Homo sapiens: one gene and its partner. The protein of the gene in region 2 purifies or fractionates together with the protein of the main gene of each other region. This does not show direct contact. Each region holds a gene or a part of one and is shown on either strand. Other genes may lie near its edges. The genes, in order: ADNP2 and ITPKB.

Evidence for each region.
Region 1: the proteins of ITPKB (region 2) and ADNP2 purify together in Homo sapiens (affinity purification with mass spectrometry; one large-scale study listed by BioGRID and IntAct). This does not show direct contact.

What each region holds. Positions count from the first base shown.
Region 1 is NC_000018.10:80,107,535-80,112,142, forward strand, and holds the start of ADNP2 (activity-dependent neuroprotector homeobox protein 2), read left to right. Parts: upstream 1-1,727; 5' UTR 1,728-1,938; intron 1,939-2,356; exon of another isoform or gene 2,357-2,487; intron 2,488-4,608. UniProt on the Homo sapiens protein: May be involved in transcriptional regulation. May play a role in neuronal function; perhaps involved in protection of brain tissues from oxidative stress. May be involved in erythroid differentiation.
Region 2 is NC_000001.11:226,634,659-226,638,466, forward strand, and holds part of ITPKB (inositol-trisphosphate 3-kinase B), read right to left. Parts: intron 3,093-3,808; coding exon 3,021-3,092; intron 229-3,020; coding exon 13-228; 3' UTR 1-12. UniProt on the Homo sapiens protein: Catalyzes the phosphorylation of 1D-myo-inositol 1,4,5-trisphosphate (InsP3) into 1D-myo-inositol 1,3,4,5-tetrakisphosphate and participates to the regulation of calcium homeostasis.

The DNA of each region.
Region 1 (4,608 bases), on a different chromosome or scaffold from region 2:
GAGGTCTGTAGGAAAGGGGGATTGGTCTGTAGTAACAAATGGAAGATAGATACAGAAAGACGAGGCCTAAAATCTGTTTTGGGCTCAGCAATTAGGAGGGCGCTGGTGACCAAGGCGTTTCTGCAGAGTGGTGAGGGTGGGGGCGAGAGGCGTGCAGGGGGCTGAGGAGACAGACACAGGGACTGCTGTTTTGAGAAATGTGATAAAATGAGAGGTCACTAGAGGATCAATGGGAGACTGCAGGCTTTAACTACACTTTTCATCCCACCCATAATTTTGCAAGGAAGATATATAGGGACATCACACCCATTTACCACTGTAACTCAAAGTAAAATCTTAACTTGTCAGCAAACATAAAGGGCAAACTCTACTTCAATTATGACTTGTATTCATGTAGGAAAAAAGCAAATTTTGGTCAGGTCATATCGGCCCACCATTTAACACAGTTTTAAAACGAATATGGACATTAATTTAGTGCCTATTATGTGTTTAGTCACTGGGCTAAACTGAGCAGAAGGCTCCCATTGAGAGGGAAAAGCTGAAATTATGGACGAGCGGATGGTGACAAGGAGGCTCTGGAGAGGGCGGTGGGCGGAAGGCCCAGCCTGGGCACGGCCTCTGCCCCGCGGTGGCTGGAGTGGGCCTCAGGGCTGGAGGCTGGCGGCGGGTTGCAGGGGCTCGGCGCTCTGGAAGGAGACGTGGCCTTGTGCTGAAAGGGGCACGTGTCCTGCAGACGGCTTCGCCAAGAAGGAACTGCCTGGAACAGCCACTGAGGGCGCGGCTGAGTTAGGGTCAGGGGAAGGAACACTGGAGGGGAGTTAGGGTCAGAGTCAGGGTTAGTGCTAGGTGAGGTTCAGGTGCAGGGTCAGAATTAGGGTTAAGGTTAGGGGCACTGGGGGAGGCGCCTGCGCTGCCCTCGTGGTTACTCCCACGTGCTCTGGGGCACGAGGGCGTCCGCCAGAGGCCTGGGGACTCCACGGAACGAAGACCTAGAGCCATTTTGAAAGCCCTACGCCATGTTTCCACTAATTTTGTGGAATAAATTATTATTGCTACACAATTGATAAACACCTGTGCAAAAATGAACTTTTAGGTTAAGAGTTTATACAAATGTATGCAATTAACCCTCTCCCCACACAACTTGTAGTAGATCTAAAAATCAGAATTCTCAAGAGAAGGTGTGATCACTTTCCCACAGGAATGATGAAGTCAGGAGACCCCAGCTAGTCGGTTCACCAGGATATGCCAATCATGGCACACTTGTCCCAGTTCTGGGAGCCAAAGTTTTGTCTTCCAATGGCAAGGCAGCATTATCACAGTTGGGCTCCCATTGGCTCTGAGATGTGGGCGGGGTCACCACTCCTGGAGCTGCCACTAGCTCCACCCCATTCCATGCAAATGAAGTCAAAGCTGTGGTGAGTCCACGTGATTAGTCACATGGTTGATGACACACTCTCCCCACCCCTTTAGTGACGTCATTGCCCACTCAAACTCTCACGAGAGTTTGCACAGATGTGGAAAGGAGCTGGCAGGGCAGTTCCCTGGGACAGAAGGGAGTCAGGGGGTCCAACAGGGGCCCCCCACTGCCACCCCAGAGCCTCCAGTCCATCTTTAGCCAGGGGCCCCGGGGGGCCTGTGGGAAGTGCCAGGGGCCCCCAAGCACACTCTGCTCTCATTGGCTGGCTGCGCCTACATGCAAATGAGGGCCAACGTCACTTCCTGAGGCCAATCGAGCGCCATTTTCTCTTTCTGGCTGCGCGGGAGGAGGGGACCAGTCGCGCTGGGGGTGGGCGCGCGCTGAGGCGGGGGTCCCGCCGCGCGGGGCGGAGGCGCGGGCGGGCGCAGGCGGCCCCACGGGACGCGGCTGCGCTCGGCGGAAGACGCGGCAGCCCTGCGAGAGGCAGCAGCGGAGACGCGGTGCTCCTCGGGCGCCAAGCGGTAGGTACGGCCCGGCCCGGCGCGGGCCCGCGCGGCGACGCCCCCTGCCCCGGTCCTGGCCCCCGCCCCAGTCTGGTCCCCTCCGAGCCCCGCCCCCGCCGGTACCCAGCCCACACCCACGCCCGCCGCCTGCCCTCGCGCCGCCCGTGGCCGCCTCGGGAATCCCGGGACGTTCTCAGGGCGCGGGTTCGCGGCCCGAACGGCGCCCGTCGACCCCCGACGCGCCCGCGGCCCGCCCCGCCCGCCGCCGGTCACGTGGGAGCGGGGGCCGCCCCGGGAGGGCGGAGAAGGGGATGGGGACCTGAGGGGAGAGTAGGAATAGGGGAAAGACGAGGACGGGGACCGAGGGAGAGAGGGGGGCTGGTGAAGGGAGCGAGGAGTAGAGGGAGAGGGAACGGGGATGGAGAAGAAGAGAGGGGGCAAGGAGCTGTGGCGACCCCTGTAAGGACTCCAGAAACGCCCCGCCCGCTGGCCCGCCCGCCGCATCCCCGAGACCGGGTTCTCCTGGAAGCTTCTCTCTGGAGGAGCCTTGAGTGACGGCAGATGTAGGTCAGGAGCTGACGGTGACACCTAAATCTGCCCAGGTTTTTTTTTCCCTAGAAAGGTTTGAAGAACAGCTGATAACGGGGCCCTGTTTCTTCATCGTTGAGCTTTTGATGCGAATATCAATAATTGATATACAGATGTTGACTTTAACATTACTTTTCATCTGCCGTTGCTGGTTGCATTGAAATAGATTCCGTTTACAAAATTTCTACTACAGTTGACTTTGGAATGTTAATTTTAACTGCCCTTTTAAATACTGTACAGATGCAGAATGAGAAATAATTAGATATTTTAAGTAGTTTATTTGAACAGAAGACTTGCCTGCGTGCTTAAAACTTACTCTATTTGCACGGGTAATCACTGCCTCTTGGGATCTTGAGGAATATACTGGCTGTGGAGGAGTGGGGTGGGGGAGGAGAAACTGGTAAGCAGGTAACTGACAATGCAGATTGGCAAGTGGGGCAGCAGTTTGTAGAGTACTGTGGGCATCTGCCACGCAGAGCCTTTATCAAAAGAGGGGGTTTGGAGTCTGGGTACCATTTTTGGGGGTGAGGAGCATTAGTGGGAGAGAGGACCACATGTAAAAAGAGTTGTGTAAAGTACATGTTCAGCTGTATTTGGAAGTCGGTAATGTATGTGTAACTTATTTAAAGATGTTCTTGGAGAGTTGGCCATGTATGAGTGTGTATTAATATTTCGGTTAAATTTCGGTTGGAGTTAGGACTTCACTGCGAAGACAGCATTGAGCCCGTCGTCCTTAAACATGAAGTGACAGATGTGTGTTAAGAAAGGAAGTACAAGAGTGAAGATGAGACAAGAGGTTGTCCTACCGGCCCTCTAGTTGAGGGGAGGAACAGTGAGGGTTAGGACATGTCTGAAAGGAGTTGATCACTGTTTATGGGGGAAGATGACAGCTATGCTAAGATTTTTAGCTGAAGAGATTCTGGGATTTGGGAGACACGTTTTTAATTTGAACCCAAGTTTGCAATATGCTGTTGGTTAATTTATGATTGCCCTCATAAGTTCACCAATAGCATATTGCAAACTTGGTTTCTGCCCTGCCCTTCATCCTCTGGCTATCCTAGACCTGTTAGGGCAATGTGTTACATAGGTGGAAACCGGTATCTCCCAGTGATTTGAACCCAGATCTGCTGAATATATGATCCAAGTATTCTGTGTTTTTAAAGTTGCTTTTTAAAAAGTCCTGTATTCCAATAGTTGGGACATTTCATTTAGTTTTTTGGAGTTAATTAATAGCAAACTCAGTGCTTATGTGCTGTTTTGCATGTATTAACTCATTTATCCTCATAACTACTCTGTGAATTAGGTCATACTCGCCCTGTTTTACAGAAGAGCCAGCTGAGGCCTGGAGAGAGTAAGTGATTTCCTGAAGATTACACAGCTCATAAATGGTGGAGCTGATGTAAACCCGGGCACACAACTCCAGAATCCTTTTTGGTGACCATCGTTTTGTGCGATTTCACAGGAACTAAAAAAAAGTTCTGTGGCTTAAAAAGTATTGTTTATTACTGTATTACCTGAATGACATTTTTTTTTTTTTTTTTTGAGACGGAGTTTTGCCCTGTCGCCCAGGCTGGAGTGCAGTGGTGTGATCTCGGCTCACTGCAACCTCTGTCTCCCGGGTTCAAGCGATTCTCCTGCCTCAGCGTCCCGAGTAGGACCCAGCCAATTTTTTGGTAATTTTTAGTAGAGACAGGGTTTCACCATATTGGTCAGGCTGGTCTCCAACTCCTGACCTCAGGTGATCTGCCCGCCTTAGCCTTCCAAAGTGCTGGGATTACAGGTGTGAGCCGTTGCACCCGGCCAACATTTTCTTTTAGAATGTATTTTTTTTTCTATAATAGAATATCCTTACGAGATCATTATACTAAAAAATCCCCAGAGAAGTCCTTTATGTACCCTTTTGGGAAATAATATTTTCTTGTGCATATCAGTGGAATTTTATGGTAGTTCCATGCCTACCCTAAACATTAGGAATTGAGATTTATTTTGAATTGAAATTGATAGGTTGGTGCATGATGTGGAAATAGTTGGCCGCCCCGGTTAGCCTGCTGTTTTCTAATGGTGAAAATACAGATTTTACTGAGCTCTAAGATTCTATGG
Region 2 (3,808 bases):
GGCGTGGGCAGCTCAGGCGAGTGGGGCATCCTGGGACATCTCGGTCAGGATGTCGACGAGGTTATTGAGCCCCGAGAGGTAGCCATCCTCCCGGTTCCCCTCCTGCCAGGGGACGTCATGCTGCAGGGTCTGGCCCTCAGGCAGGGGCGTGGTTTTCCCAAAGTCGATCATCCACACTTTGGCCTGTTCCTTCTTGTCGTGGATGAAGAGGAGGGAGCTGCCAATGACCTGAGGAGAACATGGGGGTGAAGGGTGAGCTGAAGCCCGGGCCTCGCCCTCCCCACTGCGGCCCGGGGCCTGGGTGACCAGGTGGGGAGGCTCGCTCAGGCCGGACAGTTGGGTGCCTGCAATTCCAATCCCCATTTTCAGACAGGCAGCAGAGCCGGCCCAAGAATGGCCATGCCTGGGCAGAGGGCATCGGGTTCCAGGGTCGGCGACCACCCTTCTGTGTGGGCAGCAGCAGGCACCCCTTCACCCCCTGACTCTGGCCTGCACACTTTCCACTCCTTCCCTCCCTCTTTCTTTCCTTCCTTCCTGCCTTCCTTCTTTTCCTTCCTTTCTTCCCTTCCTTCCTTCCTTCCAGACAGGGTCTTACTCTGTCGCCCCAGCTGGAGTGCAGTGGTGCAACCTCAGCTTACTGTAGCCTTGATCTCCTAGGCTCAAGCGATCCTCCCACCACAGCCTCCCGAGTAGTTGGGACTACAGGCATGCACCACGATGCCCGGCTAACTTTTTGTTTTTTATTTTTGTAGAGACAGGGTTTCACTATGTTACCCAGGCTGGTCCCAAACTCCTAAGCTCAAGCCATTCTCCTGCCTTGGCCTCGGAAAGTGCTGAGATTACGGGCATGAATCACACTGCACCTGGGCAAACTTTCCACTCTTTCTAGACCACAACCCAATCTGGGGCCTCGCCCTTCCGCCTCCTAGAACCTGACTCCTCCCAAACACTCTGCAGGGAACCACAGTGAAGGGGAAGGTGCCCAGGAGCGTCCAAACTATCCCGGGGCGGGGGTGGTGAAGAACCTGTTTCAAATGCACACAGCACCCCCACCCCAGCAGCACAACCCCTGCAGATTCAGCGTGGGCAGACCCTATAGGGCCTTCCCAGCCTGGCCCAGGGATAGTGGGCACCAAAGAGCCTGCCCCTCCTGGGTGAGCTCAGAGCCTCTGCATGGGAGCGAGGCGCTTTCCCAAATATGGCCACACATACCCCTGCATCACCTCAGTGGGGCCAGAGGAAGGCCGGGGGCACAGAAAGGGCTCAGGTGACATTCCAGCTTCCAGCAGTGCAGGGCAGGTGGGGCCCCTGGCGAGGCTGAGCCCAAAAAAGGGGCTTCCTCTTCGCAGGTGGAAAACAACAGACCCAAGCTGATTTGGCCTCTTTCTAGACCTTAAGGGAGACCCCAAAAAGTGTAGAACAAAATGCTTTTCCAAGAAATAAAAGCAGAAGTGTTGAAGAAGGGTGGGAACGGCTTTGAGACAGAGCTCTGTGGCCTTAAGTTCTCCCAGGCTTGGCCCCTGGGGTCAGGCAGCCAGGCAGCACCCCCATCGTCCAGAGAGGCAGCTGGGGCAAAGGGGGCTCTGGCAGGTGGCAGGAGGATGCTTCATCAAGTGGAAAGGAGAGGCCACAGGAGGAGCTGAGGGTCTGGGGGACAAGGAGAGCAAAGAACATTCCGAGAAGGACCGAGCTCCCTGCTAGGGGCACAGCAAAGCCTGAGTCTCCTCTCTGGGTGTGCCACCCCCTCCTCGCAGCCATCCTCTCCAGGCGCCCCGCAGGGAATGACATGCAGAGCAAGGTAGACCATCTGCCTGAGGAGGCCTGGTGGTGTAGTTTGCAGAAAGATGCACCGCCCTGCTGGCTGCCTCAGGGCTGACCCTATGAGTTCCTCCTGCTGGCTCCGCAGCCTTCTCTGTGGGCATAGGCTGAGGCTGAGGCCACCTCCATGTAAGACCCCATACAAGAGGACCTCCACAAGAGAGTCCCTACGAGAGGGGCTGCTTTCCTGAACTACCTACACAGCTGCAGGGAGCCGCAGGATCCCGCTTCACACCCACCCACCCATGGGATTAGCCAGCCCCAGGACTGCAGCTCTGTGTGTGTGTGTGTGTGTGTGTGTGTGTGTGTGTGTGTGTGAGACTGGGAAAGGCATGCATGTTTGTGTATGAGTGGGTGTGCACACAAAAATGTGTGTGGATATATGAATACATGTGTGTGTTTGTATACGTATGACTTGTGTTAATGTGCTGTATGAATGTGTGTGCATGCATGTGATTGATCTGCATGTGTGTGAATGTGTGTGATTTGTGAATGTGTGTGCATGTAGGGTTTGAGTGTGATCTGTGAAGGTGTGTGCATGTAGGGTTTATGAGTGTGATCTGTGAATGTGTGTGGTATAGGATTGATGAGTGTGGGATCTGTGAATGTGTGTGTGAATGTGTCATGTGGCTGGGGACCTGGACTCCCCATGTCAGGGTCTCACACCCCTCCAGGGAACCTGCCGACACCTCCCAGAGCCTCTCTCAGGTGTCTCAGTTCCCCACCTGCTGCCTGCTGCCCCTGCCAACCAACGTATGCAAAGTTGGGAGATTCCAGCCCTGCCCGAGAGTGGCACCTGAAGACCTGCCTGCCCTCCTCAGGGTCTCATCTGAAGATGTAGGTGGCGGTCGGCGGGTGCCTGGCTACTCTAGCAGCTCAGAGAGCTTCTGCCCTGAGACCACGGGTGTGTGGGATATGAGTCCTGCCACCACTGCCCAGAATGGACAAGACTCTGGAGCTGGAAGGACAAGGGAGGAGAAAGGGGGCAATAGCCAGGGGTCTCAGGCAGGACAGCCCGTGTGGTCACCCCAGGAAGCATTGAGACGCAGCTCCCCCGTGCAGCGAGGGTCTGGTCCCTGATGGCCTGCCTCTGGCTGCACCACCCTGAAAATGCCCGATGCCCCGGGCTTCTGGAAGGAGAAGGAGAAGGCCTGTTGGCACGCGCAGCATTCTGCTCAAGAGGGCAAAAGCCCAGTATCTACCTCGTGGCACTTGAAGAAGGGAGAAACTTCTAGAGTGGTTCGAATGGCCTTCAGCCGGTCCCGATAGGCGATCTGGGAATAGAAAGAGGACCAGATTTTTAAGCGCCGCGTGGGGAAGGGCAGTGTCAGAACACCCATGCGGCCTCTAGTGGTCCCTCCCGTGAATGTGCTTTACCCTAAACGCCGGACATCTAGAGGCAGCTTCCTGCGAGCAGGGCTGCTGTGGCGTCTTTCTCAGCATAAATGTCAGTACCTTTGACTTTTGAAAGGACAGGGTAAGAGAGAGAACCACAAATATCTCTCCCAGTGCCCTCTCCATGGAGCCCTATAAACCCATGTCAAGCTTTGCTGGCCTTGGGGGGTGCCCCATCTTCCCCAGAAGCCAGCTCTGTGGGTCTCACCCCCGGGCTGCCTTGGGAAGCTCGTCATACACAGGTACACAGAGTTCCTCAATGCCTGCTGGAAAAGAGTGACAGCTGGCCGGGCCAGCCGAGCAGCCCCCTGGAGTCTTCAGCACCAGGAACAAACCCCAGGCATAGGAGGCATGTTCCATGGTGGCCACTGCTTAGGGGCTGAGATCCTCCCCTGCAAGGGACTCAGGAATTGGAGGACTTGGGCTACGAAAGAGTCAGGCACATTCCCCCTGCCTGCAGCCTCAGAGCTTGCCAGGAGCCAAGGGAAGCCTCCCCAGCTGGAAAAGGAAGATTTCCCAGTTCCAGCCGGTACTGAGTCTCCTTGGAGAAACGGCTGCCTGGTCCGCCCCCACTTGCTCTGCAGCTGCTGTGGAC